7 linked regions of the Homo sapiens genome follow. The protein of the gene in region 7 purifies or fractionates together with the protein of the main gene of each other region. This does not show direct contact. Each region holds a gene or a part of one and is shown on either strand. Other genes may lie near its edges. The genes, in order: ALG11, DAGLB, LCLAT1, ATP2B3, GDPD1, ZDHHC9 and TSPAN5.

What was found.
Region 1: the proteins of TSPAN5 (region 7) and ALG11 purify together in Homo sapiens (affinity purification with mass spectrometry; 3 studies listed by BioGRID and IntAct, with this or other methods). This does not show direct contact.
Region 2: the proteins of TSPAN5 (region 7) and DAGLB purify together in Homo sapiens (affinity purification with mass spectrometry; 3 studies listed by BioGRID and IntAct, with this or other methods). This does not show direct contact.
Region 3: the proteins of TSPAN5 (region 7) and LCLAT1 purify together in Homo sapiens (affinity purification with mass spectrometry; 3 studies listed by BioGRID and IntAct, with this or other methods). This does not show direct contact.
Region 4: the proteins of TSPAN5 (region 7) and ATP2B3 purify together in Homo sapiens (affinity purification with mass spectrometry; 3 studies listed by BioGRID and IntAct, with this or other methods). This does not show direct contact.
Region 5: the proteins of TSPAN5 (region 7) and GDPD1 purify together in Homo sapiens (affinity purification with mass spectrometry; 3 studies listed by BioGRID and IntAct, with this or other methods). This does not show direct contact.
Region 6: the proteins of TSPAN5 (region 7) and ZDHHC9 purify together in Homo sapiens (affinity purification with mass spectrometry; 3 studies listed by BioGRID and IntAct, with this or other methods). This does not show direct contact.

The regions. Positions count from the first base shown.
Region 1 is NC_000013.11:52,031,326-52,034,787, forward strand, and holds the end of ALG11 (GDP-Man:Man(3)GlcNAc(2)-PP-Dol alpha-1,2-mannosyltransferase), read left to right. Parts: 3' UTR 1-2,275; downstream 2,276-3,462. UniProt on the Homo sapiens protein: GDP-Man:Man(3)GlcNAc(2)-PP-Dol alpha-1,2-mannosyltransferase that operates in the biosynthetic pathway of dolichol-linked oligosaccharides, the glycan precursors employed in protein asparagine (N)-glycosylation.
Region 2 is NC_000007.14:6,430,562-6,435,171, reverse strand, and holds part of DAGLB (diacylglycerol lipase-beta), read left to right. Parts: intron 1-151; coding exon 152-410; intron 411-2,212; coding exon 2,213-2,335; intron 2,336-4,564; coding exon 4,565-4,610.
Region 3 is NC_000002.12:30,526,631-30,531,240, forward strand, and holds part of LCLAT1 (lysocardiolipin acyltransferase 1), read left to right. Parts: intron 1-4,610. UniProt on the Homo sapiens protein: Exhibits acyl-CoA:lysocardiolipin acyltransferase (ALCAT) activity; catalyzes the reacylation of lyso-cardiolipin to cardiolipin (CL), a key step in CL remodeling.
Region 4 is NC_000023.11:153,548,249-153,552,858, forward strand, and holds part of ATP2B3 (plasma membrane calcium-transporting ATPase 3), read left to right. Parts: intron 1-391; coding exon 392-606; intron 607-1,248; coding exon 1,249-1,491; intron 1,492-1,796; coding exon 1,797-2,038; intron 2,039-4,610. UniProt on the Homo sapiens protein: ATP-driven Ca(2+) ion pump involved in the maintenance of basal intracellular Ca(2+) levels at the presynaptic terminals. Uses ATP as an energy source to transport cytosolic Ca(2+) ions across the plasma membrane to the extracellular compartment.
Region 5 is NC_000017.11:59,226,451-59,231,060, reverse strand, and holds part of GDPD1 (lysophospholipase D GDPD1), read right to left. Parts: intron 1-4,610. UniProt on the Homo sapiens protein: Hydrolyzes lysoglycerophospholipids to produce lysophosphatidic acid (LPA) and the corresponding amines. Shows a preference for 1-O-alkyl-sn-glycero-3-phosphocholine (lyso-PAF), lysophosphatidylethanolamine (lyso-PE) and lysophosphatidylcholine (lyso-PC).
Region 6 is NC_000023.11:129,836,736-129,841,345, reverse strand, and holds part of ZDHHC9 (palmitoyltransferase ZDHHC9), read left to right. Parts: intron 1-4,610. UniProt on the Homo sapiens protein: Palmitoyltransferase that catalyzes the addition of palmitate onto various protein substrates, such as ADRB2, GSDMD, HRAS, NRAS and CGAS. The ZDHHC9-GOLGA7 complex is a palmitoyltransferase specific for HRAS and NRAS.
Region 7 is NC_000004.12:98,651,354-98,655,963, forward strand, and holds part of TSPAN5 (tetraspanin-5), read right to left. Parts: intron 1-4,610. UniProt on the Homo sapiens protein: Part of TspanC8 subgroup, composed of 6 members that interact with the transmembrane metalloprotease ADAM10.

The sequences.
Region 1 (3,462 bases), on a different chromosome or scaffold from region 7:
CAATACAGTGGATGACCCTTTTGAATATACCTAATGATTTCCTTAAAAAAGAAATTTTAAACAGACTTGTTTAATCGTGTTCTCAAAGCATACAGTCAAGAGGTGGGACTGACTGATGCTTTATAGGTGTGTGTAGGGTGGTAGAGGCCAAGGTGCTGCCAGCAATCCTTTCCATACTAGGTACTGGTGAAAATTGTTTTTGTTTATGCTGTCAGCACATTTGTGTGGGTCTCTCATTGTCCCTTAACAGTGCCGCATCTCAGCCTGGAAGTCAGCTTTAAGTCATTCAAGAGAACCTCAGGCTGTTTTTCTGACAGTGATGATATGATATACAGATACATCCACAGGGTATCTATTACCAGCATAATGCATTGTAAGATGGCAAGGTGGCATTTTGAAAGAGCGCTGGGCAAGCAGTTAGCACATCTGGGCCTACCTTCAGCTTCTTCATTTACAAACTTCTGACCTTTTGACACTAAAGCTGCTCCTTTATCTTTCTGAGTCTCAGATTCTTCATCTGTAATCTGGAGTTGTTAATTCCAGTCCTTACTACCTTTTAGAGTTGGAATGAGATGGAAAGTAGATGAAACTACTTTGAAAATTACGACAGTTAAGGGCTGGGTGCGGTGTCTCACACCTGTAATCCCAGCACTTTGGGAGGCCGAGATGGGTGGATCATGAGGTCAGCAGTTGAGACCAGCCTGAACAACATGGTGAAACCCTGTCTGTACTAAAAATACAAAAAAATTAGCTGGGCCTGGTGGCAGGCACCTGTAATCCCAGCTACTTGGGAGACTGAGGCAGGAGAATTGCTTGAAACTGGAAGGCAGAGGTTGCAGTGAGCCAAGATTGTGCCACTGCACTCTAGCCTGGGCAATAAGCAAAACTCCATCTCAAAAAAGAAAAAAAGGAAAAAGAAAATTATGAGAGTTACTTAAAGGTAACATCACATACTAAATGTCTTCTATAATCCTATATTTATTAATGCATTACAACTCTGTAGATTGTTAGTTACTAGGCCAGTAGCTAGGAATTGGTATAAATTTAATGCACCTTCTATCCTGAATAACTAGCATGGAAAAGTGAATATATGTGTGAGCAGATATGGCTATAAAGACCTATAGCTTTTGCACTTTATGCATATATAATCAATCCTTTCTAGTTCAGTGAATTGACCCCATCCACAGGCTGATTCATCTTTGTGTTAAGGGGCAAATGAAACGGTATATTATTTCTTTGCAGTCTCCTCTCAGTCATTCATCAATGTGGCCAGCTTATCTACTCCCAATTATGTTGTTGATACATCTCCAAGCCATCTGTCATCAGATCAAAAAGCAGCAAACAGAGGGTCAGTCACAGGATGTTCTGACACACCATTGTAACTTTTTGTTAGAGATGATCCCATTTAGAAAAAGACTGGTAGAAATTGGAGTGAAAGGAACCCTACAGATTAGCCCAGTTCTCTCTTATTTTCAGCTTTACAGACAAGAACAATTTAAATCTAAAGAATTTAGTAGATTCCTTCAGTGTCACAAAGCTGTTTCATGAAAGAATCAAGATTATAACCTGGATATTCTGACTCCTGGCCCAGTGCTTTTTCTTACTTTGTAGCTACACTTTGAAGTAAGATTCAAACTGTTATCCACTCAATTGCCTTATTCCTGAGGATGTAGTGAAGGAAGAAAAAGTTTTCTGGAATTCCGTAAATTATATTTTAAGCTTATTTCTTCAAAATTATTTTCATATATCACAGATATATCATTGGAAGATATAATTTGCATATATGTTCATTATCAGTGTTCCTAATTTGGTATTACATGTATTCTATTTTTTTCTGAATGATAGCATGAAAAGTGTCAAAGTGGTTTGTCCGCTAGCGTCTGTCTGCAGAACTTTCAGGATGACTATTAATTCCTCTCAGATGTCATTTTTGAGTGGTCCAAGCCTGCTGTTTTGAACCCACAGCAGTGGAGATTTGTATTCTTATTTACAGTTGTGTACTATAAAGTGTGTGTTACATAGGTTTTGTGTAATAATTATTTGTAAATATTATTTAGATTTGTATTTAGACATGATTTATATCTAATATAGATACAAAGTCTGTGTCTAAATATTATTTAAAGAAGTGATTTTTCATTCTCTTGGATTCTTTCCAGTGTGGTGCCTTTTATATGCCTCACATAGTCTCCTTGTTCTCCTACTAATATTCCCAAGCTCCATATGCCAATTAAAGAAGAAACAAAAATAAAAGTTTGTCTTGCTTGTGAAACATTAAGAAGAGGCTGTCAGGTTTAATAAACTTTTTAATGAATATTTCAGACATAACAAAAAACTGCAGAGCTTCGTACACTTGATTTAAATAATTCTTGAGGGATTTTATAAGGTCATCTTATAGACAAAATTAAGAGACACCAGTGTGGTTATCAATGCTTTCAGAATACTTGTGTTTATGTAAATATACCCCAGAGTCCAAAACTCTGATATATTCATATATATTCACAATGAGAGGATGTCTGTGCCAAATCTGTCAATCAGTACAATAGAAAAGTTAATTATATAACTACAACACGAAACACAAATTTTTAGAAGCAAATTATGTCCTGTAATTTACCCCCCTCCCCGCTGCTCCTCTGCTAACTCATTTTCCTCTTTTCCCACTCTAAATGTAAGGCAACCCTTGGCTTTGGAGAAGCATCTGTTCCAATATTCTGGTGCTATGTGCTCAGTTGTACTATATGCAAATGTTACTAGACACAGAGGAGGTCAAAGTGTTGATACACTTATTGCTACCATTTACAGAATGATCAATTTGATAGCTATCATACATGGCTAGCAAGACACTGATTTTTCTAATAAAAAAATTTTTAATGCATACAGGTCTGGTGAACAGTTTCAATTTAACGGATGAGGCCAAGGCTAAAGCCAGAGTAAAGTAATCAGAGCCATGCCTCAGGAACACGATTTAGCTAATAGTGTGTGTAAAATGGGTAAGGTCTAGAATTAGGGACTAAAATCAGCTGAAAGTGTTGCAGATATGTATACTTATCACAGTGAATACTTCCAGTTTACAGCAAAGAATTCAAAATTGTTGAGTAAAGCTTGGTGACTATTACCTAAAATAGACTAGACTTTAGCCAAGCATCTTTTATCATGGGAACAAACCCGATAACCTGACATGCTTTTTTTTTTTTTTTTTTTTTTTGAGACAGGGTCTTTCTTACTCTGTCACTCAAGGTGGAGTGCAGTGATGTGATCACGGATTATGGCTCACTGTAGCCTCAACCTCCCAGGCTGAAACTAAAGTGATCCTCCCGCCTCAGCCTCCTGAAGAGCTGGGACCAGAGGTGCACACCAACACACCAGCTAATTCTTTTTTTTTTTTTTTTTTTTCTGAGGGGTGGATAGAGATGGGTGTTTCCCTATGTTGCCCAGGCTGGTCTCAAACTCCTGGGCTCAAGCGAT
Region 2 (4,610 bases), on a different chromosome or scaffold from region 7:
TCAGGCAGGTTCCAGGAGAGCTGCATCTTCCTCGGTAACAGAACCCTCCGTGGTAGAGACTCAGAAACTGAACCTGGAGGAGGGACCCCGGACATCTGCGTCTGGGCTGGGGCCCGCAGTCACCGAGCCTTTTCCTCTCTCTGTCTTGCAGTTGGATCATCATCGCTGCCACAGTGGTTTCCATTATCATTGTCTTTGACCCTCTTGGGGGGAAAATGGCTCCATATTCCTCTGCCGGCCCCAGCCACCTGGATAGTCATGATTCAAGCCAGTTACTTAATGGCCTCAAGACAGCAGCTACAAGCGTGTGGGAAACCAGAATCAAGCTCTTGTGCTGTTGCATTGGGAAAGACGACCATACTCGGGTTGCTTTTTCGAGTACGGCAGAGCTTTTCTCAACCTACTTTTCAGTAAGCCGAGGGGATCTGGTTTGGTCTGTTTCTTCTGTTTCAGTAAATGCTTCTGATGGAGCCGGTCCCTCTGTTCCCATAAAACCGCGTTTGAGAACCTGGTGTCTTTGGGTGTGTGGGGGGTGGCCGGAGACCCTCTGTCTGTGATGAGCCCTCCAGGGAGCAGTTAACTGCAAGAGCCACACCTTCTCAGACCCTGTGTCCCAATAGGACATGTCTTCGTATTGACACCCACTCACTACCCTGTCAAAATGCTGGATTAGCCTGTAAGGAACCACATAACGGACGCTGTACCCTTTGAGAATAATTTGCAGCTGCTGTTGAGCAGATACCAAGCACAGGCAGTGGCATGAATCGAGGTTGGAATCAGATAGTGAGTGACTTCTTACCACTTTGTATCATGATGGAAATGATCGACGATGCTACTTTTGGAAGACAGTTTGAATAGATGATTGCAGCACAGAAGGGAGCGTCATTCTAGAGCGAGTTCTTCCGCAATTTGAAAATGCTTGTTTTTTTTTTTTCACATGCAGCGTGTCATCTTTTTATATGACATTCTCTGCTAAATGCTGTTAAATTCCATACTGAGATGAGGTAAGGGAGGAAGAGTTCTCTGCTTATCCTGCACACCTGCCAGTCTCTCTTCCCACCTCTGTGCTATCCGACTTGGCACCATTCAGGGCTGGTCCTGGAGCCTGACACCAAGTCATAGCAGCAGCCTCCGTAGAGGGAAGAGGGAAGCGTGTCCCCTCAGTAACTTAAAGAAGTGCTTAAACCTAGTCTTAAGATATCTGGAAGAGGGAAGAAGAGAAGCTGGTTATTTCTAGAGGATGTCGTAATCTACATCACAGGCAGAACTGATGGCTCAGTGGCTGAGTGGCCAGTATATTGTCTTTTTTTTTTTTTTTTTGAGACAAGGTCTCGTTTTGTCACCCGGGCTGGAGTGCAGTGGCGCCATCTTGGCACAACCTCCACCTCCTGTGTTCGAGAGATTCTCCTGCCTCAGCGTACTGAGTAGCTAGAGTACTACAATAGCTGGGATGACAGGCACCTGCCACCACGCCCAGCTAATTTTTGTATTTATAGTAGAGACAGGGTTTCACCATGTTGGCCAGGCTGGTCTCGAACTTCTGACCTCAGGTGATCCGCCCACCTCGGCCTCCCAAAGTGCTGGGATTACAGGCGTGAGTCATCGCACCTGGCAGTATATTGTCCATTCTTACGGGCTACAAGTACCCGGAGGTGATTGAGAATTCCTAATTCCTCCATTTCCTGGAGAAAAAGGACATGTCAGGCCTAAGAAGACTCACTCTCTGTTGCTTTCCCAGCTTGGGGTCCTTTATGAGGCTTGCCATACCCTGTGAGTATGAGTTTAGTCTCATAAATCTCTACCATCCACTGTGTTTCAACAAAACCTTCCCAGCATCTTGAGAAATGAGAGTATAAACGTGGGCTAAAATGGTGCATTGCTACAAAAACGGACAATTTATCCATTGATTTCTCCACTTTACAAAATATTTGAAGTAGATTAAAAATAGTTGAGTCACATGAAGTGAAATTTTAAGACAGACGAATAGCATTTTTATATTCTCCAGTGGACTTGTCTGAGGGCAGGATGTGAAAACATATTCAGGTCACATAGAGAAGCACTCCTGCCAGGAGCAGTCTTTTTAACATACCTCTGTGTCTAGAAATGTCTGTGTGTGCGTGAATGCCTATCAACTATAGAAGACTGGATTTTAGGGAACCCGGGGGTGGTGCCTGCTGGGTTTTATGACAGGCCATTGTGGTTTCCCACCCAGGACACAGATCTGGTGCCCAGCGACATTGCGGCGGGCCTCGCCCTGCTTCATCAGCAACAGGACAATATCAGGAACAACCAAGAGCCTGCCCAGGTGGTCTGCCATGCCCCAGGGAGCTCCCAGGTGAGCCTGGCTTCATGGAGTGTCCAGTTCTGACACTTACACCTTTTGGTGGGTCTTCAGAATCATACAGCTAACCTATAGCAATTTCTTCCTCCCTTCCTTCATTCCCCTTTCCCCTCCCTCCCCTCCCCCTCCTCCCCTTCCCTCCCCTCTCCCACCTTTTTTTTTTTTTTTTTTAAGACGGAGTCTCGCTCTGTCGCCCAGGCTGGAGTGCAGTGGCACAATCGCGGCTTACTGCAAGTTCTGCCTCCCAGGTTCACACCATTCTCCTGCCCCAGCCTCCTGAGTAGCTGGGACTACAGGCGCCTGCCACCACACCTGGCTAATTTTTTTTCTTATTTTTAGTAGAGACGGGGTTTCACCGTGTTAGCCAGGATGGTCTCCATCTCTTCACCTCATGATCTGCCCACCTCAGCCTCCCAAAGTGCTGGGATTACAGGCGTGAGCCACCGTGCCCAGCCTCCCCTCCCCTTTTTTTCTTTTTCTTTTTATGAGATGGAGTTTTGCTCTTGTTGCTCGGGCTGGAGTGCAATGACACAATTGGCTCACCACAACTTCCACCTCCCGGGTGATTCTCCTGCCTCAGCCTCCTGAGTAGCTGGGATTACAGGCGCATACCATCACACTCAGCTAATTTTTTGTATTTTTAGTAGAGATGGGGTTTTGCCATGTTGGCCAGGCTGGTCTCAAACTCATGACCTCAGGTAATCTGCCTGCCTCGGCTTCCCAGAGTGCTGGGATTACAGGCATGAGCCACCACACCGGGCCTATTTTTCATTTTTTTAACTTTTATTTTAGGTTCAGGGGTACATGAGCAGGGTTGTTACACCGGTAAACTCATGTCACGAAGGTTTGTTGTACAGATTATTTTGTCACCCAGGTACTAAGCCTAGGACCCTACAGCAGTTTCATTAGCAGCAGGGTTGGAATCTGATTGGCGGCTTCCACTGGTTGTATTGCATCACCTGTCAGGTGAGGCATCTTCGTTATCAACTGGAGTTCAGGTAGTGGGAACCCATTCCTGGCCACTTTATCATCCATCATATCTTTATTTTTTATTTTATTTTTTGAGACAGAGTCTCTGTCACCCAGGCTGGAGTGCAATGGCATGATCTTGGCTCACTGCACCCTCTGTCTCCTGACTTCAAGCAATTCTCCTGCCTCAGCCTCCACAGTAGCTGGGACTACAGGCGTGCACCACCATGCCCAGCTAATTTTTGTATTTTTAGCAGAGACGGGGTTTCACCGTGTTGGCCAGGCTGTTCTCAAACTCTTAGCCTCAAGTGATTTGCCGGCCTTGGCCCCCCAAAGTGCTGGGATTACAGGCGTGAGCCACTGCATCCGGCCACATTTATCATATCTTTGAAGGCTTATGTTTTAGGAAATTTGCTGTTCAATTCTATGCATTAGAACAATTCCTCCTGGGATGGGGACTGCGATTCTCCCTGGGTGTGTTTGCTTTCTTCTCTGGGGCTGGGGGCAGAAGCAGTTCAGCTTTGCTTGGTGATAATTTTCCTGCCACAGGTTGTTATGTTTTTGAGAAAGAAAATTGCACGTAGACGGTATGTATCTTCGCTGCTCCGGGTTAAGCCACTCAGTTCTTGACAGCTCGTGTGTGGCAGTGGCATGGAAATGTACTAGTTTCAGGCATCTAGATAGGAAGCGCCGGCTCATTTCAGCAAAAACAGCAGAGAAGTCATTGGAGTGTTTTTTACTGTTAACTTCCCCGTGCTTGCTGTGTTCCTATAAAATGAGGAGTCAGGCTGGGCGTGGTGGCTCACGCCTGGCTTCCCAGCACTTTGGGAGGCCAAGGCAGGTTGATCACCTGAGGTCGGGAGTTCGAGACCAGCCTGGCCAACATGGTGAAACCCCGTCTCTACTAAAAATACAAAAATTAGCCGGGTGTGGTGGCGGGTGCCTGTAGTCTCAACGACTTGAGAGGCTGAGGCAGGGGAATTGCTTGAACCTGGGAGGCGGAGGTAGCAGTGAGCTGACATTGTGCCACTGCACTCCAGCCTGGTGACAGAGCGAGACTCTAAAAAAAAAAAAAAATGAGGAGTCCATGTCATCCTTATTGAAGGAGCAGTTTTGCCTGTGGGCGTCTGAGAGTTCTATTCAACGAAGGAGCAGGAAGAGTCAGGAATGAGTTCAGGTTTCAGGTCTCAGTGTGTTGATCCTCTGTGTCAGGAGTTCCCTTAATAAACAGTAGTTTTTGTCCTTCTCTTGTAGGAAGCTGATCTGGATGCAGAATTAGAAAACTGCCATCATTACATGC
Region 3 (4,610 bases), on a different chromosome or scaffold from region 7:
TGTGATTGGATTGCAAGAGTAGTTGGCAGGATCTCTTAATGTTCATCCAGCAATTTTTTATTGTCTACCACGTACCTAGCATTTTGCTAGGATGCAGTGATGAACAGGACAGATATGATCTCTGTCCTTGAGGAGATAATAGTCCTCTACCTAAAATATCTTATCCTAATTGTAGATTTACAGAGCTTGACTAATTTCTTTTCTGGCTTTCATGTGACTAAAAGTCTTTTTCTTTTTTTAGAGGACAGAAGTTGACTTCTAAGACTATTAATTTTTAGAGTTACATTTTTAAATTAGCTTTAAAGATATGAAGCCCAGTGTTTCATTGCAACCCTAAACATACCATTTGCCATAAAATACTCATTTTTTGTTGCTGCTTAACCACTATCACTCTCTATTTACAAGGTGGGTATTTCTCTATATACATATATTAAGTAAAATAAGAATACTGTTCAGTTTATGTAATATTAATCATCACAAGTAGATACTTCTAAAACGTCATCTACAAACTGTATGTTAAGTAATTTTGCTGTCATCATAAAATCAGAGACATTTCCTATTGAAACATTTGACTGTTTTCATGTCATTTATGTAACTATTTTTAGTGTTTGTTTCATCATCTGTAAAATAAAGAAATTGGAGTAAATGATCTTTGAGATCTATTCTGGATTCAGAATTGTATATCTGATTGTAAAGCAAACATTCAGAGGTAAAAGATTTTTTGTAACAGTCATGTATTGTTACTGTACTCCATTTTCTAAATGTCATCAGTTTTCTATAGTATATAATCCTTTAATTATGAACCACACATTTTTGTTGAATCTTTCTGCCAAAACCTTGAGAGTTCTGAGAATTGGTAAAAATTACTACAGTTGTAATGCTTTACAGTGTCCAGTCACTCTAATTTTTGGAGAGCGAGCATAAGCAGAGTGCTTATTTTCACAGACATTGCAGACAGATATTTGGTTTCACTATTGGCCTTCCCACTTTCTAGTCATTTGAACTTGGCTAAGCTCCTTAGCCTCATTGTAAGCTTTTGTTTCTTCATCTCTATAAAAAGGAGTCTTAATACTACCTACTTACATCAGAGAGTCATTGTAATGACTAAATGAGGTAATAAATATATAGCCTTTTTAGTATAATGCTTGCCATTTGGTAAGTACCCGGTAAATATTTGGTATTATATTAATTTTAGTTTTAGTTTTAGTTTTGCTTTTATATTAATTTTAGGCTAAACTGGTGTTTTGGAGAAAATTCAAAATATAGTGGCTCCAATACAGTAGAACTATATTGACTTACAGGTCCAGGCTGGCAAGGTCCCTACGGTCCCTGATGTCATCAAAGGGTTCAGATGTCTTCTATCCTGTTAATCCACCTAGCTTGGCCTCCAGCCTGGTATAATGTCCTCTTGTATTTGGTCAAGACTGGGTCACTGCCACTTCTTTGCCCCACTCTGGAGGAAGTCCAGAGCAAATGCTTTCTTTCTATACCAGTGACTCACGTGTGTAGTACATAGCAAGTTGCACATATCACTTTTGCTTACTCTATTGGTAAGAGCAGCTAAAAGCTGTAATAGAATCTGGGAAATGTCTTTTTTTTCTGGGCAGCCATGTGCACAGTTAAAATTCTTAATCTGGAAGAAATGCTGGTATTTATAGGACAAGTTACCAAACAAATTCTGCAATAGCTATTTCTGCTATTATTACTGCTAGTAGCATTACTATTACTGCAGAATTACATTATACACCTACAGTATTTGTACAGTTTCAATTACATGCACTAAGGTAAGGGAAGAGTGGGCAGAGAAGAGAATGAATTTTTTTCTGCTTCATGTGAGATGAAATAGGAAATATGAGTGGTTCTCTGCTGAGTGTGATTCTTGTGTTTAAAGATAGATATTTTTAAACAATATACAAACCAATCACTTTGTCTGATGGTCAGGTAGGGTAATATCAATATAGTACAATTTTGGGAGAAGATTGGCTGAGCTGGACTTACTGATAGTGTGATCTTTTGAGATGCACCATCCTATGAGATTTTCAAAGATAATTTCACCTATTCCTAACTTTTGTCTTATTAGCTGTTTGGACAGTTTAACACATGGGTAAGATTTAACTACCACAGTACTAGTAAAAAATTAGTATACATTTGGAAAACTGCTGTCACTCAGCTGTTTAGTTTACTAGTTACAGCATATCAGACAGAGAAAGTTTTTTTAGTTAAGAAATGTATAGATGTTGAATTCCTTATAGCTAGGTTACAGAAAAATTGATATTCTAGTTTTGAGATAGTGAACATCTCTGTTGAAGGAAACAGAGAAGAACCATCAAGGGTGTCTTTTATCACCTTTTATCTCATACTCGTACAAGGAGCTAAAGGAGTTTTTAAGCAATAATAAAATATATTCTTTTTAAATTCAGAGTGAATTTAATCTAAAAGCTTTTCTTCTATCCCTTATTGATGTACTTTATTTTAAGCAATCCCAAACAGTTAAAAATAATTTTCCACTAAAAATAAATTAGGATAAATGCACTTAAACTAATTATTGCTTCACAAAAATAGTCACAAAATGATCTTCTCTTTCATTAAGTTTCTCTTGTGGATTAAAATGATTTTGTTGGCAAGATTTTTCTTGTCTTACTATTTTTAAGGAGCACATTTCTGTGCTAAAAGAGGCATAGCAGTGAAATGTTTTAGAATCTTAGATGAGACTTAGAGGTCACTTTGTCTAACCTAACTCTGTGGGCAAGAATCCGTTCTAGAACTATCTGCAGGGTGACCATTCAGTCTTTCTTTGAATGTTTCTATAATTCGGAGTGCATGCCTTTGTTCCTTTTATTTTTGGACCATTCTGTTCAACATAATGAATATTGTAAGGGTCAAACTCAGCATGTGCTCAGAGCAGTTTTTGCTTCTCAAAATTCTAACTAACCGACAGTCTGATTACTACCTGGGATTATGAAAATTACTGGAGTTCTGTCCTTTCACCATAAATCATGCCTTAGGAATTTAGAGGTCATTTTCTAACTGTCTACCCAGGGCACAAGTTTCTTCCACAGCCTTCTGATACCATTCCAGTCCTAGCACAAAACAGGTGTTGAATAAACATAGATTGCTGAATGTGATTTTTGTCTACACTGTTGCTCTTAACAAAGTGGGTGCTCAGTGTTTTGAAGAATGAGTTGGGATTGCAAAGCCTCAAGTAGCTAGGGATTTGGAGAACCAGACCTAATCTGAGCCTGAAAAGCAAAAGCAGACATGGAGATGAGTTGTTATTACCTCAGACTAAGTAAAGATCCATCAGAATGATAAATGAGAGTGAGAGCAGCGGGCATGATGGTAAAACTTTCTCTGTGATCTTGAGAGGAACCACTCTCATCTTTGTGTTTTTATACACAATGGAACACTTGGACATAGTAAGTAGTGGTATATAAAAGATCCTTGGAAAATGCTTCCATATTTCTGTTAAATAATACACAGAGAAATCTTTGACCAATTAGGTAAAAATTATCAGAATTGTTACTCTTCAATATAAGAAACAATGCATTATAAAATTTTGTTAGATTTATTACTGTTGACACTATTATCTCCTATACTAGCAATAAAATAAACATGAGAAATGTGAGAATAGTGTCTTTTTTCCCAGTCTTTTAGTCTGGATTAATTGAATTCTGGAGTTCTGTATAGATATTACAGCTTTATTTCTGTGTAGTATATTTGTTTTTCTGCCTTTGCAGGAGCTGTAAATAAGGTTGACTGGATATGTCTCATCTGGTATTACAACCAATTAATGTGGACTTGAGATCTTGGCTGCCCAAAGGTTATTTATAACTTTCAGGCATATTCTGGTAGAATGCTGGATGTCAAGGGAGAGGATGTCATGTTATATGAGATGTTCCTGGACACATGGTCTTGATTGTTGTTGTTGTTGCTTTTTTGGAGACTACATTCTCTTGCCCAGCTGGAGTGTAGTGGTGCAGTCAGATCTCACTGTAACCTGAAATTCCTGGACTCGAGTAATCCTTCTGCCTCAGCCTCCTGCGTAGCTAAGGCTCTGGGCATGTTCCACAATGCCTGGCCTTTAAAAATTTTTTGTAGAGCTGGAGTCTTGCTATGTTGCCTAGGCTAGTTTCAAACTCCTGGCTTCAAGCGATCTTCCTGCCTTAGCCTCCCAAAGTGCTGGGATTACATATGTGAGCCACCACACCCATCCCAGTCTTGGATTTTTTATGTTATTTTTCATAATGAAAAGCAAAGGATTGTTTGGGATCTATAGGTATCATATATTAGAGATTGCATATATAGGTTTAGATTTGAGGTTTGGAATTTATAGGCTTAAGATTTTTAACTCTTGGCCGGGCACGGTGGCTCATGCCTGTAATCCCAGCACTTTTGGAGGCCAAGGCGGGCGAGTCGCAAGTTCAGGAGTTCAAGACCAGCCTGGCCAACGTGGTGAAATCCTGTCTCTACTGAAAATACAAAATATTAGCTGGGTGTGGTGGCGGGCACCTGTAATTCCAGCTACTCGGGAGGCTGAGGCAGGAGAATCACTTGAACCCGGGAGGCAGAGGTTGCAGTGAGCCGAGATCGCGCCACTACACTCCAGCCTG
Region 4 (4,610 bases), on a different chromosome or scaffold from region 7:
GGTGCCCCTACCCAAGGCTCCAGGCTCTGCCCCTGGCACCCTCAAAAGGCAGCTGGGGGCATGCAGGGCTGGTACCCCAACTTCTGGGGTGCAGTGGGGGATTGACTCTTGCTAGTCCTCCCCAGCGGTGCTTCTCCTGCCATCAGACCACAAAGTCCACTCCCCAACCCCAGCAGCACTCCAGAAGAGGCCACACAGAGCCCCCTTGCAAACAGGCCCCAGCTCACCTGCTGAGCCAAACCTGGGCTGTTTATCCTGAAACGCAAGGCAAATCTACAAGGCCTTCACAAATGCCTCCGAGACCGTGTCCATACCTCTTCTTCCCTCTTCCTGTCCCCCTCCTTCCCTCACCCGTGGCAACCCCTTTCGTCTCCTCCCCGCTCTGTGGCAGGGCTGGTGATGTCTGCCATCACCGTCATCATCCTGGTCCTCTACTTTGTGATTGAGACGTTTGTCGTGGAAGGCCGGACATGGCTGGCAGAGTGCACGCCGGTCTATGTACAATACTTCGTGAAGTTCTTCATCATTGGTGTCACTGTGCTGGTCGTGGCTGTCCCAGAGGGCCTGCCTCTTGCTGTCACCATCTCCTTAGCTTACTCTGTCAAGGTAATCATAAAACTTACAGTTGATACTGTTTACAGACTCGGAAACTGGGGTAAGAAGTCATTGGGCGCCTTGGTGGCAGTATAAACTGGGGACGTTTGGGATAGCTCAAGGGAGGAGAGGAGGTGCCGAGCAGGGACCCAGGGGGCAGCTTTGCTGATCTGTCAGCTCAGGTCCCTCGGCATGAGATGGGCCAGAAAGCAGGCAGGCGGTGAGATACCCAGGGGTTCAGCATCTGCACAATGTGGGCAGTAGGACGGAGGGGCTGGGAGGCAGCGGGGAAGCGGAGAATCAGCAGAGGGCCCGGGACACTGGGAGGCAGTGGGAGGAGGTGGGGGGAGCCAGGTGTGGGGTGGTGGGGTGGTGGGGTGGTGGGGTGGGAGAGCTGCAGGGCTGGTGGGTAACTGAGAGGGGGCTCGGGCAGGGGAGGTCCCGGGTGCGCATCCCGCCCCCACCATTGGATGAGGTTGCTGATGCCTTACAGCCTCGCTATTGGCTCAGGGCTGACCAGGTGCCCAGTGGGCTTAGTGCCACACGTGGAGCTAGCTGAGCAGAACAGAGTCACGCGATGTTTGTGTTGACATCTCTCACTCCTCCACCCCAACAAGCACCTGGGCCAAATGCCCACACCCTCGCCCTTTGCAGAAAATGATGAAAGACAACAACCTGGTGCGCCACCTGGATGCCTGCGAGACCATGGGCAACGCCACAGCCATCTGCTCCGACAAGACGGGCACGCTCACCACCAACCGTATGACCGTGGTCCAGTCCTACCTAGGAGACACCCACTACAAAGAGATTCCGGCCCCCAGCGCCCTGACCCCTAAGATCCTCGACCTCCTGGTCCATGCCATCTCCATCAACAGTGCCTATACCACCAAAATACTAGTGAGCTGGGGCAGGAGCGGGCGGGCAGGGCCGGGGGCAGGAGCAGGGGAGGGTCCTGGCCAGGGTGCCAGGTGAGCTGTTGCAAGGTGCTCATTAGGCCCCCCCTTGAGAACTTTTGCCCATCCCTGGCCTCACAGGTGGCTCTGGCTGGGAAACTGCCTGTAGCTAAGGCCGACCTTCCTCTGCTCCCTGCCGCCCACACCCTAACAATGTGGTGACCACGAGGGGGCAGAGCTGGGGCTCCAGGGGCAGCATGGAGGGTGGTCTCAGGCCCCCAGTGCCTGCTAGCCCTCGTCATCTTGCAGCCTCCTGAGAAGGAAGGCGCCCTCCCACGCCAGGTGGGCAATAAGACGGAGTGCGCCCTGCTGGGCTTCGTCTTGGACCTGAAGCGGGACTTCCAGCCCGTGCGCGAGCAGATCCCGGAAGACAAGCTTTACAAAGTGTACACCTTCAACTCGGTCCGCAAGTCCATGAGCACAGTCATCCGCATGCCCGACGGTGGCTTCCGCCTCTTCAGCAAGGGGGCCTCAGAGATCCTCTTGAAAAAGTGAGTGAGCAGCAGGGAGGTGCCGGGGTACGCACGGAGTTTCTGATTCTATTGTCGTGGTAAAAGAGGCCGAACGTAAAATTCACCATTTCAACCACTTTACAGTGTACAGTTGAATGGCATTAAGCACGTTCACAATATCATGCAACCGTCACCACTACCCAGTTCCAAAACACCTCCATCAACCCGGAAAGAAACCCCAGGCCCATGAGCAGCCCTCCCCACGCCCCTCCCCAGCCTCATGTGCTTCCTGTCTGTATGGATTTGCCTGTCTGGACATTTCCTATCAAGGGACTCATACACTGTGTGGCCTTTTGTGTCTGGCTTCTTTCCTTAGTGTAAAGTTTTTCCGTTTCCCTCAGATATTAGACCTTCCTTTCTTTTTTTGTTTTGTTTTGTTTTTTCCCTCAAGCCATCCTCCTACGTCAGTGTCCCCCGTAGCTGGGATTACATGTGCATGCCACCACGCCCAGCGAATTTTCAAATTTTTTGTAGAGCTGGGGTCTCCTCATGTTGCCCAGGGTGGTCTTGAAGTCTTGGGCTCAAGCGATCCACCCACCCGGCCTCCCTAAGTGCTAGGATTACAGGAATGAGCCACTGCCACCAGCCCGAACTTCCATTCTTTCTAAGGCTGAGTAATATCCATTGTATGCTAAAGAGCATTGTGTTGGTCCATCCATCCCTTCATCTGTCTACCAGCACGTCTACCAGCACGTGAGTCGTTTCCACCTTTTGGCTGTCACGAGTCACGCTGCTGTGAATATTCACGTACAAGTTTTTGTTTGAACCCATGTTTTCAATTCTTTTGCGTGGACATCTAGGAGAGGAATGGCTGGGTCGTGGTGTCCACGAAACTGTTTTCCACAGGGGCAGCACCGTTTCACATTCCCACCAGCGACATAGGAGGGTTCCACCTTCTCCCCATCTTCAACAGCACTTATTTTCTGGTGTGACAATGCTGATGGGGGCCATCCTTGTGGGTGTGAGGCAATATCTCCTGGTGGTTTTGATCTGTGTTTCCTTGATGACTAACAACGCTGAGCCTCTTTTGCTGTGCTGACTGGCCATTTGCCTGTCTTCCTTGGGGAAATGTCTGTCCTAGCCCTTTGCTCATTGCTGAGTTGGGTTGTTTGTCTTTTTATTGTTGGGCTGTAACATTTTTTCTGTATTCTGGATCCTAGATCCTTATCAGCTATGCGATTTCTACACATTCTGTCCCATTCTGTGGCCTGTCTTCACTCTCTTGATAGTGTCCTTAGGTGCACAAATGTTTTAAATCGTGATGACGTCCAGTTGATCTATTTTCTTGTTGTTGCTTAGAGATGATGAAAATTTTCTTAGAGATGATGAAAATTTTCTGGAATTGGAGACTGGTGATGGTCGTGCAGCTCTGTGACTATACTAAAAACCATCGAATTATCTACTTTAAATGGGTGGACTGTGTGGTGCGTGAATTATATCCCAATAAAGCTATTAGAACAAAGTAAGGGAGAGTGCACAGCGTCACCTCCAAATGCCCTGGCTTCCCCACTCCCACTCAGCCTTCCCGGACTCCACACCCTTGGCCTTGGCGTCTCTGTCCACAAGTCACCTCGCTCCTCATGACTGCCGTCCCAGGGCCCTCAGGGCAAGGTCCTCTGCAGGACGCCCAGGGCTCCCCAAAGGCCCAGGCCCACGCTCCTTCCTGTGTTCTGCGGACTGGACCACCAAGTGCACCCTGCCTGGCCGCCCCACCCACAGCGCTCTCCCAGAACTCTGCCAGGTGCAGCGCTCACTGCCAGGGCCAGGACCACCTCCTCCCTGGAGCCATCCCTGCTGGTGTGGGGGCCTCAGCCCTCTTTCTGTGCTTCTTTTTTGGTGGGCACTGAGGGACACTGAGGCACTGCGGACAAAAGGCCCAGCCCAGCTTCACTCCCCCTTACTCCCATGCCTCAGTTTCCCTGGTGGCATGGAGATCACAGAATACTTATCTCTGGGGAGGGGTGTGAGGGTTCCGTGGGTGAATCCACATCCATAGGAGGCTCTCCGTCCACACAGCTTCTGTTATGATCATTTCCTTCGTCACCAGCCTCCCATGCAGTGGCAGCACCTGGCACTCACAGCCCCACTGGCTTCTTCCACCATGCCCGCCTCTGTGACCCTCGGCTCCTTTGCTCCCTCCTCTCCCCACCTGAATCCTCCCAAGTCCTGTCCCTTTTGAGAAGCTCCTGGAGTCATGAGCGCTCTACTGAGGCTGTGGCTGCCTGGACGTGGTTATAGCGATTGTCCACAGACTTCAGTTTTTGCCCAGGTTCCACCCGCTTGCCCTATGAAGTCTGTGGTGGAGCTGCCATGAGCCACATGCTCCTGCCTCCCTCCCGGTCTCTCAGCCTGCAGCAGTGCATGAGCGTCCTGGTGCCCTCAAGCAACAGAAATGGATTCTCCCCCAGTTCTGGAGGCCGGAAGTCCAAAAGCAGGGCGTGGGCAGGGCCGAAGCGCCTCCAAAGCATCTCAGAGAGGATGCATCCTGCATCCTCCAGCTTCTGGTGGTGGCTGCCAGTCCTCGCGTTCCTCAGCTTGCAGCTGACCCTCT
Region 5 (4,610 bases), on a different chromosome or scaffold from region 7:
ATGCATGCCTTTTTGGTAGCATAACGGACTGGTAAGAAATTCACTCCTTGAAGACAGTGAGGAAGGAAGCTTTTGCCTACCACAGCAAGTTTACACTTATGCATGCCTGCTACATCAGCATATCCTAACACAGTTATTCTGTCATTGGCATCCTTAATTTCCATCTCATCAGCTGCAGTCAGTGTCTTTCTGGGGCAATAATGCCAAAAGAGTGTTGTTTCATCAGGATTATAGACTTGTTCTTGTGTCAGATTTTCAACAGCAATGACCCTGGCAAACTTGTCAATGTATTTCTTTGCTGCTTCGTGACCAGCAGATGCTAATCACCTTTAATCTTTAAAAATGTAATGCCATGTCTTCTCTTAAATTTCTGCAACTGGGCCGGGCATGGTGGCTCACACCTGTAATGCCAGCACTTTGGGAGGCTGAGGCAGGCGGATCACCTGAGGTCGGGAGTTCAAGACCAGCCTGACGAACATGGAGGAACCCCAGCTCTAATAAAAATACAAAATTAGCCGGGCATGGTGGCGCATGCCTGTAATCCCAGCTACTCGAGAGGCTGAGGCAGGAGAATCGCTTGAACCCGGGAGGCGGAGGTTGCAGTGAGCCAAGATCGCGCCATTGCACTCCAGCCTGGGCAACAAGAGCAAAACTCCATCTAAAAAAAAAAAAAAAAAAAAAAAAAAAAAATTCTACAACTGGCCTGTTCAATATTCACAGTTCCTTTCATTTTAACTTCATCGCTTGAGATCTTCATTTTAGCTTTATGCAGTTTTTCTATTTTTAATTAACTTCTGTTCATCACTTCCACTTTATATATACTACTTCTGATATATATAAAACTTCAACAGTTTATCCTTCTTTTTCTTCAGGTCATATATAGTGGTCATTCTAATACCATATCCTCTGTAAGGTATTTCACACTTACACCAGTGTTCAGTTTCTATAACACCTTGACTTTCTGTGCTATAGATAAACATAAATGTTACCTATTTTTCTCATCACTATAACCCATAGGGGTATCTGTGGTCCTTTTTGATATTTTCACATCTTTATACCAAAGAGCAGAGAATAAGCAAGCAAGCAAGCAAACAAAAACACACAATAAATAATGCATATAGGTCTTGGCACCATGTAGGGCATCATGGGGAATCTGCTGTTGGTGTGATCAGTCTGAACATGTGCCATTTTATTACCCTTTGTGGGCACGCTTGCATAAGGAAACCTGGACATACTCAGAAAAGATATATTGTAACTGAAGGGAGCTGGAAGAGTCTTTTTTCCCTTGGGGACGCTGAATAAGCCGTGTGTTGTTTGCTTTTGTTTTGACTGCAACCTGTCACATGAGGTCAGGTGTGGAATTCGTTATATATATATTTTTCTTTTTAAAAAATTTATGGCTGGGCGTGGTGGCTCATGCCTGTAATCCCAGCACTTTGGGAGGCCGAGGCGGGCGGATAACCTGAGGTCCAGGAGTTCGAGACCCACCTAGCCAACATGGTGAAACCCCCATCTCTACTAAAAATACAAAAATTAGGCCAGGCGCAGTGGCTCACGCCTGTAATTCCAGCACTTTGGGAGGCCGAGGCGGGCAGATCACCTGAGGTCAGGAGTTCGAGACCAGCCTGGCCAACATGGCGAAACCCCATCTCTACTAAAAATACAAAAATTAGCTGGGTATGGTGGCAGGTGCCTGTAATCCCAGTTTACAGGCACTTCTGTGTCAAAAAAAAAAAAAAATTTAGCCAGGCATGGTGACGGGCATCTGTAATCCCAGCTACTCGGAGGCTGAGGCAGGAGAATCACTTGAACCCAGGAGGTAGAGTTTGCAGTGAGCTGAGATTGCACCACTGCACTCCAGCCTGGGCGACAGAGCGAGACTCTGTCTCAAAATAATAATAATAATAATAATAATAATAATAATAATAATAATAATAACAATTTGAGGAAAAAAATTTTTTTCCTCATGTTATTTTTTACTAGGAATTTTCTACTTGTGGAGTTATGTCTGTGCTCAAAAAGTTTCAGATTTTGGAGCATTTCAGGTTTTCAGATTAGGGAAGCTTAACCTGTATTTTGAATTTTTTTTTAGCTGCAACAGTAGAAATCAAAAATCAAAACACAGCCACAGTAACACAGGAGGGTTAAAACAGAACCTAAACTGATTTTTTTTTTTTTTCTGAGACAGGGTCTCACTCTGTTGCCCAGGCTGGAGTGCAGTGGCATGGTCGGAGCTCACTGCAGCCTCAAACTCCTAGCTCAAGCAATCTTCCAGTCTCAGCCTCCCAAGTAGCTAGGACTACAGGCACATGCCACCATGCTCAGCTAATTTTTTTTTTTTTTAGAGACAGGGTCTTACTATGTTGCCCAGGCTGGTCTCAAACTCCTAGACTCAAGCAATCCTCCTGCCTCAGCTTCACAGTGCTGGGATTACAGGCATGAGCCACTGTGCCTGGCTGGCCTAACCATGATTTTTAAGCTATAATATCCACTTATTTGTCAAAGGAAAGACAGAAGAGGATTTGGTACACATAAGTCTCCTCAGACAGAGTTAAACAGTCTCTCCTCTGTATCCCCATAGTCTCTTATGCATAGCTCTACTAAGGCATTTATCATATTATGGCATAAATTATTTACCTGTTTCTCTCCTCCCATTCCCATGAATTGCTTAAAAGAAGTGACTGTGTTTTAATCACCTTGACTGAAGGCAGTATAGTCTAGTGGTTAAGGGTGAGACTCTGGAGTTTTAGGATGCTTGGTCTCCAATCTGTTTAATAATTGTGTGACCTTAGAAAAGCTACCTAAGAAACTTTCATAGAATTGGTATAATCAAATGAGTTAATATTTAAACTGCTGTATTTTATCAATTTTTTTTTTTTTTTTTTTTTTTAGATGGAGTCTTTCTTTGTCACCCAGGCTGAAGTGCAGTGGCACAATCTCGGCTCACTGCAACCTCCACCTCCTGGGTTCAAGCAATTCTCCTGCCTCAGCCTCCTGAGTAGCTGAAACTACAGGCGTGCGCCACCACACCAGGCTAATTCTTTTGTATTTTTAGTAGAGACGGGGTTTCACTGTGTAGGCCAGGCTGGTCTCAAACTCCTGAGCTCAAGCAATCCTCCCACCTCGGCCTCCCAAAGTGCTGTGATTACAGGCGTAAGCCACTGTGCCCAGCCATTCAATTCTAAAATGATAACTTTTCATTTCTTAACATCTCTGAAGTTAAGATGTATTTTACAATTAATGCTGTATAATGAACAGTTTAATTGGCAAGATTTTCTCTCTTATTTTAAATCAACTTTTATAGAGGTCTCTTTCTTAACAGTATGTAAAAATTGTGTATTTATAACCAATGGCATTAGATTCAATGAAATACTAGAGTAAACATTCCATGAAAGTAAAGGATTATTGCTATTATTAGAATTATTATTACTATTGCCATTATCATAGTAACTGGTAAAGAATAGGTACTTGGTAAATGTCCATTAACTGCAATAATAAATAATATTGTAATTTTTAAAAAAGGACACAGATTTTGATGTGAACATATTGAATTATAAAATATTGTCTAATATTATATACTATGTAAAAAGAGTTAACTAACTTTATGCATGCTACCCAAAAGTTTTAAATTTTTTTTTTTTTTAGTTGGAATCTTGCTCCGTCGCTCAGGCTGGAGTGCAGTGGTGCAATCTCAGCTCACTGCAACCTCCACCTCCTGGGTTCAAGTGATTCTCCTGCCTCAGCCTCCCGAGTAGCTAGGACTGTAAGCACATGCCACTATACCCAGATAATTTTTGTATTTTTAGTAGAGACGGGGTTTCAACATGTTGGCCAGGCTGGTCTCAAACTCCTGACCTCAGGTGATCCTCGGCCTCCCAAAGTGCTGGGATTACAGGTGTGTGCCACCATCACCAGCTTAAAATGTTTTAAAACTAAAACATTTCAGTGTTACCAAATAATTGATGAAATATACAGAAAAATACTTTGGAAATAATTTTCCATACACTTTGGAAAAACAGTCAATTTCTTCTTAATAGAAAGAGACAATTCAATAAACTCTCAATAAAAAGGTACTGCTCAGGGTGGGCGCGGTGGTTCATGCCTGTAATCCCCACACATTGGGAGGCCGAGGTAGGTGGATCACCTGAGGTCAGGAGTTCAAGACCAGCCTGGCCAACATGGTGAAACCCCGTCTCTACTAAAAATACAAAAAAAAAAATTAGCTGGGTATGGTGGCAGATGCCTGTAATTCCAACTACTCGGGAGGCTGAGACAGAGAATTGATTGAACCCAGGGGGCGGAAGTTGCAGTGAGCTGAGATCGCGCCACTGCATTCCAGCCTGGGCAACAACATCAAAACTCCATCACACACACACACAAAAGGTACTGCTCAAAGTACCTAAAGGACTTAAGTATTAGCATTAAAATGTTTTATATACAATACCATCTGAACATATTTGTATTAAATTTTTCTTCTTTTATATTGTTAGGTTGTATTTTTATGATGACCTAATTAATAATCAACAGAAATACAAGATATGCAGAAACAAATACATTAGCTTTAATATGCTAAAATTTTATAACTTTAGCAGAGGGAAGATACCCACGTA
Region 6 (4,610 bases), on a different chromosome or scaffold from region 7:
CAGTGAAAAGCCAACTGAGTTGGGAACCTACAGATTAGTTCCAGCCTCAGCTGGACCACATACTAGTTGTGTGCGTGGCACATACGTGCTTATTAGAAGTGAGTTGCTCTTTCCCTCAAAATCACTCAACGTAAACAGCTCTATATTCTGTGTATGTCTGGTACCAGCCTTGGAGTGATTTTTTTTCTGTGGTGTAATACCTCGTACTCGAGCCACTGTTTGAAGTCTGTGTAGGTCTCGTCTCTAGGGGAGGTGGCCGGCTGGATTCTAGGGCACTGTGGCGTGTCTCCTGGGTGTGCTGAGAATGCTCTACACTCTAGGGATGGGAGCATTGCTAATTGTTTTGGGATTACTGTGAGGAGGCCTTTGAGAGCCAAGAGGTGTGTGTGTGGACTGTAAGCCACACCTGAGGTGAGCGTGCTATGGTGTATGTACATGGGTGACCTGGAAATGGAGGGCTTATGCTGGGGTGTGTCCATGGGAGGTAGGAGGGGGCACCTTGGCCAGCCTAGTGGGGAAGTAAAATGAGCTCTGGTCCCTTGGGGCTCATTTTTGTCCTTCTGTGAGGGCTTCAGGCTTTCCCAGTGCACCCAGAGTGATTTTTGGGCTGCTTTGCCAGACTTTTGGGTGGTTGCAGCTGGCTTGAGTAACAGCAGGGGGAGGGAGATCCAGTTTATAACGGGGCTGGGAAAGTAAGGTCAGAGGAACTCTTTGTTAAAGGTCCTTTTGCTGCTGCCGCCGCTACTGCTGACTTTGTGAAGTGTTTAGTGAAGTCAGGCAGGTTGCTGAAGGCTTCTTATTTGCTTTCCAGTTTGAGTTTCCTGAATGAGTGTGTGTGTGTGCATATGTGCACGCACGTGCTTGTGTGTGGTACCAGTGAGCATGTGTAGTCAGGCAGGCATAAGCCCCTAGCATTAAAAATTGTTTTTCCTTCTCCTCACCCTTCTCTCCAAGTATTCCTTGCCTCATTCCTGTCCTGCTTCTTCTTGGAAGTGCAAAGCTGACATCTGTTCTTTATCATTCTTCCTCTCTTTTTCTCTTTTTGTCCCCACCCCCACCTCCAGGTTAAATTTTTATTACAACTATTCCAAACAGAGATGAGCCTTGTTCCCAGGCTTTGAGTTAGTTGGTAGTTCTGGGCCCAGGAAACCTCTGGTTTGACTGGCCAGGGGTACTTGAAATTTGGAGGTATTGCCATTTGTCCCCTTTTGTATCTGGGAGCCAGCAGAAGAATCTGACTGGAATCTGTTCCACTGAGGCCCCTGCAGGCCTCTGAAGAAAACCGCTGGTGGGATGAAGCTTCTAATTAGCCAAGTTACCATTTGACAGAGGCAGGTTGAGTTTTCTACCATGATGACTTCCCCCCGCCCCAGGTTATTTCTTGCATTTTGAAGGGTGAGGTTATTTGTAAAACTTACTTGAGTACCAGCTGTCTGTGTGAAAGACTAAATATTTTTGAAGATAGGGCTGGAGGAGGGAGTAGTGGGAAGAAGAGGGGAGAAGGAAGTAAATGTGTTAGCAGAGGAGTGGAGGGGGGAGGTGGAAATGTGACCACAGAGGAGAGGACCCTGGTGATGAATACTTTGTACATGTGTGGATGTGCGTGCTTGTGTATGTGTGTGTGTGTCTGTCATATACAGACACATAGACACTTTAGGTGGTGGCTGCCTTGTGCCTAGCCAGTGACAGGTTGTACAAGGTACACCAGCATGCCTCTGAGGAATGAAATCTCCTTCTGGTCGGCCTTTTTCTTTGGCATCTATAATTTCCTGTCCACCACATAGTGGGGGCAGGGTTTGGGGAGCAGAATGTGGGCTGCTTTGTTAGTATTAGGACTTAGCGCAGTGGCTCATGCCTGTAATCCCAGCACTTGGGGAGGCCGAGGCAGGCAGATCACTTGAGGTCAGGAGTTCGAGACCAGCCTGGCCAACATGGTAAAACCCCCGTCTCTACTAAAAATACAAAAATTAGCCCCGTGTGGCTGTTGTGCGCCTGTAGTCCCAGCTACTCGGAAGGCTGAGGCAGGAGAATCCCTTGCACCTGGGAGGCGGAGGTTGCAGTGAGCTGAGATCTTAGCCTGGATGACAGAGTGAGACTCTGTCTTAAAAAAAAAAAAAAAAAAGAACTTAGTGAGGCCTCAGGAAATCAGTTGATCTAGCCCCCTGCCTTCAGGCAGGTGAGGGTGTCTGAATAGACAAATGGTGATCTATTTTCATTCTTACATTGTCTAGGAGTAGAGACTCCACATCCTCTGGCTGCTGTATTTTTACCTTGTGGGAAGATAGTCCAAATCTTGAGGCACATCTGGAGCTGCATTTTAGTAGCAGGGTCCTGCTTGCAGCAGGTGCTTAGGAACAAGTGTGAGTTGATTTATAGCTGCCTGCAGCACAGCTCTGGGCCAGCCAGATGGCTTGAGAAGTCTGGTCAGGCATGTGGGTGCCCCTTAATGAAAAACGCATAATGTTAGCAGTGCTGGCAGATGTCCTTTTATTTTTGGATTATGCCTTTACATATCTTCTAGAAGACTTTTCAAATGAGTGACCTGTAATTTTCAGTGGACACATAGTAGATTGAATACATAAAACAAAAAAAGTTGTCCATCCTGGGGCCAGTTAGCTCTGTATTGTTAGAGTGTTTCTTTTTTTTTTTAATTATTTTTTATTTTTTATTTATTTTTTGAGACAGGGCCTTGCCCCATCACCCAGGCTGGAGTGCAGTGGCATGATCTCTGCTTTTGCAACCTCTGCCTCCCGGGTTCAAGCACTTCTCCTGCCTCAGCCTCCCGAGTAGCTGGGATTACAGACACCTGCCAAATACAAATAATTTTTGTATTTTCAGTAGAGACAGGGTTTCACCATGTTGGCCAGGCTTGTCTCGAACTCCTGACCTCAAGTTATCCACCTGCCTCAGCCTCCCCAAGTGCTGGGATTACAGGCATGAGCCACTGCGCCCGGCCTGTTAGAGGTGTTTCTGAAGAAGCCGGGGGGTCTCTCTCGGGCCGCTGTCACCGAGTAGAAATTTGGCCAAATATTCACTAAGCCTCTTGCAACTCCAAGAACCTGAAATTCTGTATAACTCTGTGTCTGTCTGGAAGACTCAAATACACACAAAAGGAGATTATAGATTACCAGTAGGTTGCTATATTTAAATATAATTGTATTCATGGTAAACGTATTTAAGTTTAAAAGCAGAGTGAAAAATGGTATAATGCTTAAAGAAAAAGGATTTTCTAATTAATTCTTAGGGTGAGGTATTTAAGAAATGTGAGTGTGTATTGCTAGTTTCAGCTTTGAGCACATGAACAATTTTCAGTTCTTTCTGCTTAAGCTCTATCCAGCTTGTGCGATGAACACATAGCTACCAGCTTGGCCTGAAGTGTTAGGACACTGTAGCAGAATGCCACTGACAACCTAGGAGACATCCAGCTACTGAAAGGCTATCGTGGTATTCAGTCAAATTCAACTTCCTGATAAAGTGTGATCCTGGAGAAAGGAACAAGTGCACTGTCTCCTGGAATTGGCTTCCAGCTTTCTCTTTTAGCTTTCTGACCTGGCCACTAGTGGGATCAAGGTCCTCAGACTTCTCTTGTGGCAAGAATGACTATGAGACTCTTGACCCCTGAAGCAGAAGCAGTTTGCTGCTATAATCAGTGCTTATGGTCTCACTGTGTCCTCTGTATATGAAGGAAATCTTATCAAGGCACTGTCAGACCAGGTTCTGTCAGGTTGGTCCCCATTAGAGCTTTTGATGTATATATTGGCAGAAGAGTCATTGAATTGGATGAACTGAAAACAGCTTTGTAACACTGCTTAGTAATCAATAGTAATCAATACAAACAATACTTTTCTAGCCTATCCAAATTCTACCCCTCTTTCAAATTCTTTCTTGAGTCTTTCTTCATGAAAACTTTCCAGTAATTTCTGCATTCATTGGGCTAATTGTACACACCGCTCATTCAACAGATAATCACATGACATTTCTTATAGTTTGGAGCTATATGGTGATTACACTTCTCACTGTTGTTGTCCCCCGCAGCTAGTCTCTTTCAAGGTCAGAGACTATGTTCAATGGCTGTGTAGCCCCCACAGTGCTCTCTACCATGCCTTACATAGAGTAGATGGCCAATAAGTGTTGCTGAATTAAAACATTCTAGATGTACTTAAAATTTAACAATCTTGACCCACAGAATCATAGGATGGTAGATCTGGAAAGGGCTTTGGAGACTATCTCCCTCCTTGTGTGGGGTGAGGAAACCAGGCCCACAGAAGTGAGTTTCCTTTATCAAGATGAGTTGACCAGCCAACGTCTCTATACTGACTCAGGGCTTTTTCTTCTAATTTCGACATTTTATCTCATTGTTCATTGTTACCCTTTGGCTATGGAATCCTGAAGATATTCAAACACACATGCTTTAGTAAAGTGTACATAGTACCAAATACTAGGCCAGCATATTCCAGATTCTTGCGAGCTAGTGTGTGTGTTACCCAGTGGCATCTAGGCTCTTTGGGTCTCCCAAGCTTATGCTCCTAGAAAATGAAGGCATCTTTGCAGAGAACTGATGGTATTGCAGCATGGCATTTCTGGTAGCCTTGCAGGAACAGGGAAGCCTA
Region 7 (4,610 bases):
TAAATACAAAGTGTGGTTCTGACCTGAATTCTTTTGCTTTAAAACATTATGGGAGCAACTGGGAAACTTGGATGAAATCTAAGGATTAAATGGTGTTAATGTATCATTGGTAATTTCCTGGCTTTCATGGTTGTACTGTGGTGATCTAGGAGAATAGTCCAGTTTACAGAAAATACATACTCAACTGTTTGTGTGATAGCCAACATGCTGGCAACTTTGTCTCAAACAGGATAAAAACAGGTTCTCTATACTACTTGCAATTTTCCTATTGGTTTAATGTTTCCAAATAAAAATTTTAAATGAACAGTAAATTAGGAGGATGGAAATGATGGGGAGACAGATAACATCTAGTTTGAACAGATGAAACTCTACAATTAAAGTGGTCCAAAAACAGATCCATGCTTAGAAAGGTAGGCACGATACAATGGAGAATGCTTCACTGACTAGGAAGTTAGAGGAGATGATTCCTACGTACTTTCTGATGATTTTGTAATTCTTTCCTTCAACATACTTTTTTTTTTTTTTTTTTTTTTTTTTGAGACAGGGTCTTGTTCTGTCACCCTGGAGTGCAGTTGCAGCCTCAACCTCCCAGGCTCAAGTGATCCTCCCACCTCAGCCTCCCAAGTGGCTGGGACTACAGGCACGCATCACCACACCCAGCTAATTTTTAATTTTTAATTTTTTTTTGTAGAGATAGGGTCTCACTATGTTACCCAGGCTGGTCTCAAACTCTTGGGCACAAGCCATCCTCCAGCCTCAGCCTCCTAAAGTGTTGGGATTACAGGTGTAAGCCCCCAAGCCTGGCCCAAACGTTTATCAAAACATCTACTGTGTTTCAGACAATGCGCAAGACACTGGGCTTATGAAAGTGAGACAGCCCCCACACTTGAAGCCCTTATAATCCAGTGGAGTATGATTTATTTGGAAGTTAGAAATTTTAAGACAGTCATCAGTATTACACACAGAAACAAACATGTGATTCAAGAATGCTGTCTACAATACTCCAATTTTCATTTATGAATTTTCAATAGGCTACAATTATTCCACCATATTCTTGAAGAACATTTTCATCCTAACTTTTTTGTGCTTGTGGGTGGTGTTAATTGTGGCATATGCAAAAACTTTATCACTTTTCGATTATGAACAGATGTAAATGACTTACTTGATGTTTTATTTTAGAATAACAAGCATCTTCTAAAATAAGTCTCCACCCAAAAAGCTGGGGCTATCATTACGGAAGAGACTTAACACTCTGAAACTGAACCTTGACATGCTCTTCAACACCTCAAAAGTTACTCCACATCTCTGTACTCCAATTTCTTCATCTGTCACAAAGATATAATATTCTTGGAAGACTCTTTGGGGTGCTTACAAGAAAAACATCATTAGTGAAAAGTTCTGTTAAAAATGCAGATTGCTTTCACCTTTTGCCAGGGACTACCTATTACTGTGGACATTAAAACAAAGTGACCCATCTAAATGAGTGCAACATTTTGGCAAGTTTATGGTGGTTGAAACATGATTTGGTTTTCCAACTTCTCCCCACTTGGCTTCATTTCAATCTGCGGAGTATATCAAGTGAGAATGCTTCTGCGCCTTCATACTGCCCCACAGAGGGAGTGGCCACACTAAGCAAGCCTATATTCAATTACTTTCCCCACTTTATACCTTTCTTACACTTTTCCCATATGACACTTTCATAACCATATTTAGCTTTCTTCCTACCATCTCCCTGTAATTCAAAACGCAATTTAGATTCCCATATGGTTGCCATCGAAGCTAACAGATGTCTAGCAAATTAAAACAAAAATTATGACTTATAAACTGCTGATGTATCATCATTCCAGAACATCTTGCAATTTATAGTGAATCATAAGATAAAGCTTCCTACTTGATGCCCCCCCTCCCCCACCGCCCCAAGGTTTCCTGAGTCTCCCTCCTCTCTGAATTAAGCCCTGTGGAAGCAAATTAGAGGCAAGATCCTGCCATCAACCCTGGATAAACTTGCACTTAAAGACACAAGGTAATATCTGAAAGCATATCAAAAGAGAAAGTTGGCCTCAAGTAACTGAGGCTTTTCTAATCCTTTGTAGCAAAGAAAACAGAAAAATGACTTGGTTCTCCCAAATCATTCCACCGTTTCCATTGAGTTCTTTCCTAACAAGTCACTATAAAATCTATTGAATCCATTTGCCTCATCTTCTTGGCAGATCTTAAGGGTATTATCATTACCTAGTAGTAATGATGCCAAAGTACTAGACTAAGGCATTCTAGAAGTTCTATAGCCCTGTATGGAACCAGTATAAAATCTGGAGACAACAACAGTAATGATATTCACTATTTGTTAAATATTGAGATATTATGCCGAATAAAACATTATCTCACTGAATCTTTAAAACTACAACACCATTAATGTTATCTTTCCTTTATAAACAAGAAATTAAGGCTCAGTGCCTTAATACAGTAGACTATATTTTTCAAAGATGGCCACAACCTACATGACTTTCTGCAATGTGACCTTGACACTTCTCCATCAAAAGGTGGCTTCTAATTCTTCACCCTTTGAAATTCAGCAGTCTGCATGAGTGCTCTAACCAATGGAATAGATAAAAGTGGCACTGCCAGTTCTAAGTGGAACCTTAACTGGCTGGAAGCTTCTTTAAGACTTAGAGACAGGAAGAAGCCACGTGTAGGTAGGTGCTCCAGTGACAACTCTGGCTAAGCTCCCAGCAAGCATCAGCTTCCAGTCATATGAGTATACCATCTCAGGCATCCTGCCCAGAGGGCCTTCCGGTAAGTCCAACTCCAACTACATCTCACCACAACTGTATGAGACCCCAAGTGAGAACTGTCCAGATGAGCCTGGCCAAATCACAGAACTGTGAACTATAATAATAAACAACTGTGTTTTAAACAACTAAGCTTGGAGGTTATGTAGCAATAAATAACCAGAATATTGAGATCAATTTACTTGCCTGGGAACAGTTAAGTATCCAGAATCCAAAACAGTTAAAAGCCAGAATCCAAAAGGGCAAAACATCTATTAATGATGAGTGATGGGATGTGGTGTTCGGTACCCCAAAGAAATGACTTTAAAACAAAATCCTCTTTCTTCTCCCTCCCCCAAACCCAAAGCAGTCTCAGGGTTTTCTGAGAAATGTCCCAGTACGGTGACACCCTCAATAAAATCAATTCCCTTCTGTCTTGAATTGTTCCAATATATAACAGAGGAAACAAGTTTTCCCCCACCAGCCTGTGATAACTAATGAGAAAGGAATCTGTACAAGATGTTGACTTTGTTACTCAGAATGTCATTACAACTGTTATATAAAAGGATTCAGATTTTATACATGAAGCTGTAATTCTAATAATAAAAATATATTTAATGACTCACAGGACTACATTTGAGATTCACAGTGGGGAGAGAGAAGCACGGACACTATACCAGGAACTGAACAAGCCAAGAAGAAATTAGTGAAAGGTTTTTTGTTTTGCTTTGTTTTGTTTTTTTTGAGACGGAGTCTTGCTCTGTTGCCAGGCTGGAGTACAGTGGTGTGATCTTGCCTCACTGCAATCTCCACCTCCCGGGTTCAAGTGATTCCCCTGCCTCAGCCTCCCGAGTAGCTGGGACTACAGGCACCCGCCAACACACCTGGCTAGTTTTTTGTATTTCAGTAGGGACAGAGTTTCACCATGTTGGCCAGGATGGTCTTGATTTCCTGAACTTGTGATCCGTCCACCTCAGCCTCCCAAAGTGCTGGGATCGCAGGCGTGAGCCACCGCGCCCAGCCTTGGTTTTTTTTTGTTTTTGTTTTTTGTTTTTTGTTTGTTTGTTTTTTATGAAAGGATCTTTGAGGAAGAAATGAAAGTAATAAAACTAGTCTTCAGACAAGTCTCCCTAACAGAAAATGTCTATAATTTATCACGTGTCCTGGTATATACTACTTCTGTTATAAATTAGTGGCCAAACTCTTCTATTTTTCTTCTCCAGCATATTGGAACTCAAGAAACTCATTCTGTGTAAGAACTAGAAAGAACGTTATAACTCATCCACCTCCTTCAATTTAACAGCTGAGAAACTGAGGCCCAGGCAGTTAACTGATGAAGAGCCAAACTGCTGATCAGGAAAAGAACCAAGCTCTCAGTGCTGGTGCCACCATATGTTCAATTTTATTTTACCAGAACTATACCTTTGAATGTCACCAGTGTATGTCAAATGTAGTCTAGCAGTTCAGTGTGAAAATGAAAATTAGGAAACCATGCTGTTGGCAATCTCTTCTTCATAATTGTATGGGAGTAGCACCGAGTCTGCTGTTTTTGGCAATCACAGACAGGTTGGTGACTCTGTAGAGAGCAGAGGTGTGTAACTTTTCAGAAGCAAGCTGCCAAGCTACTGACCCCAGCTTTTCAGTCACTAACATCTTAGTCTGAATTACTTTAACCAAAACCATATGGTTGCCTTTCTGTTGATCATCACTAGAGACCATGGTACAATAAAGCAGGAAATTTAAATATGGGGTAATTTTGAGGCAGAGAGCAGGATAGGAAAGGTATGAGGGAGTATCTGAGAGGAAGGCTTTGGGCACAGAGAGGAGAGGAAGGGAAGGCAA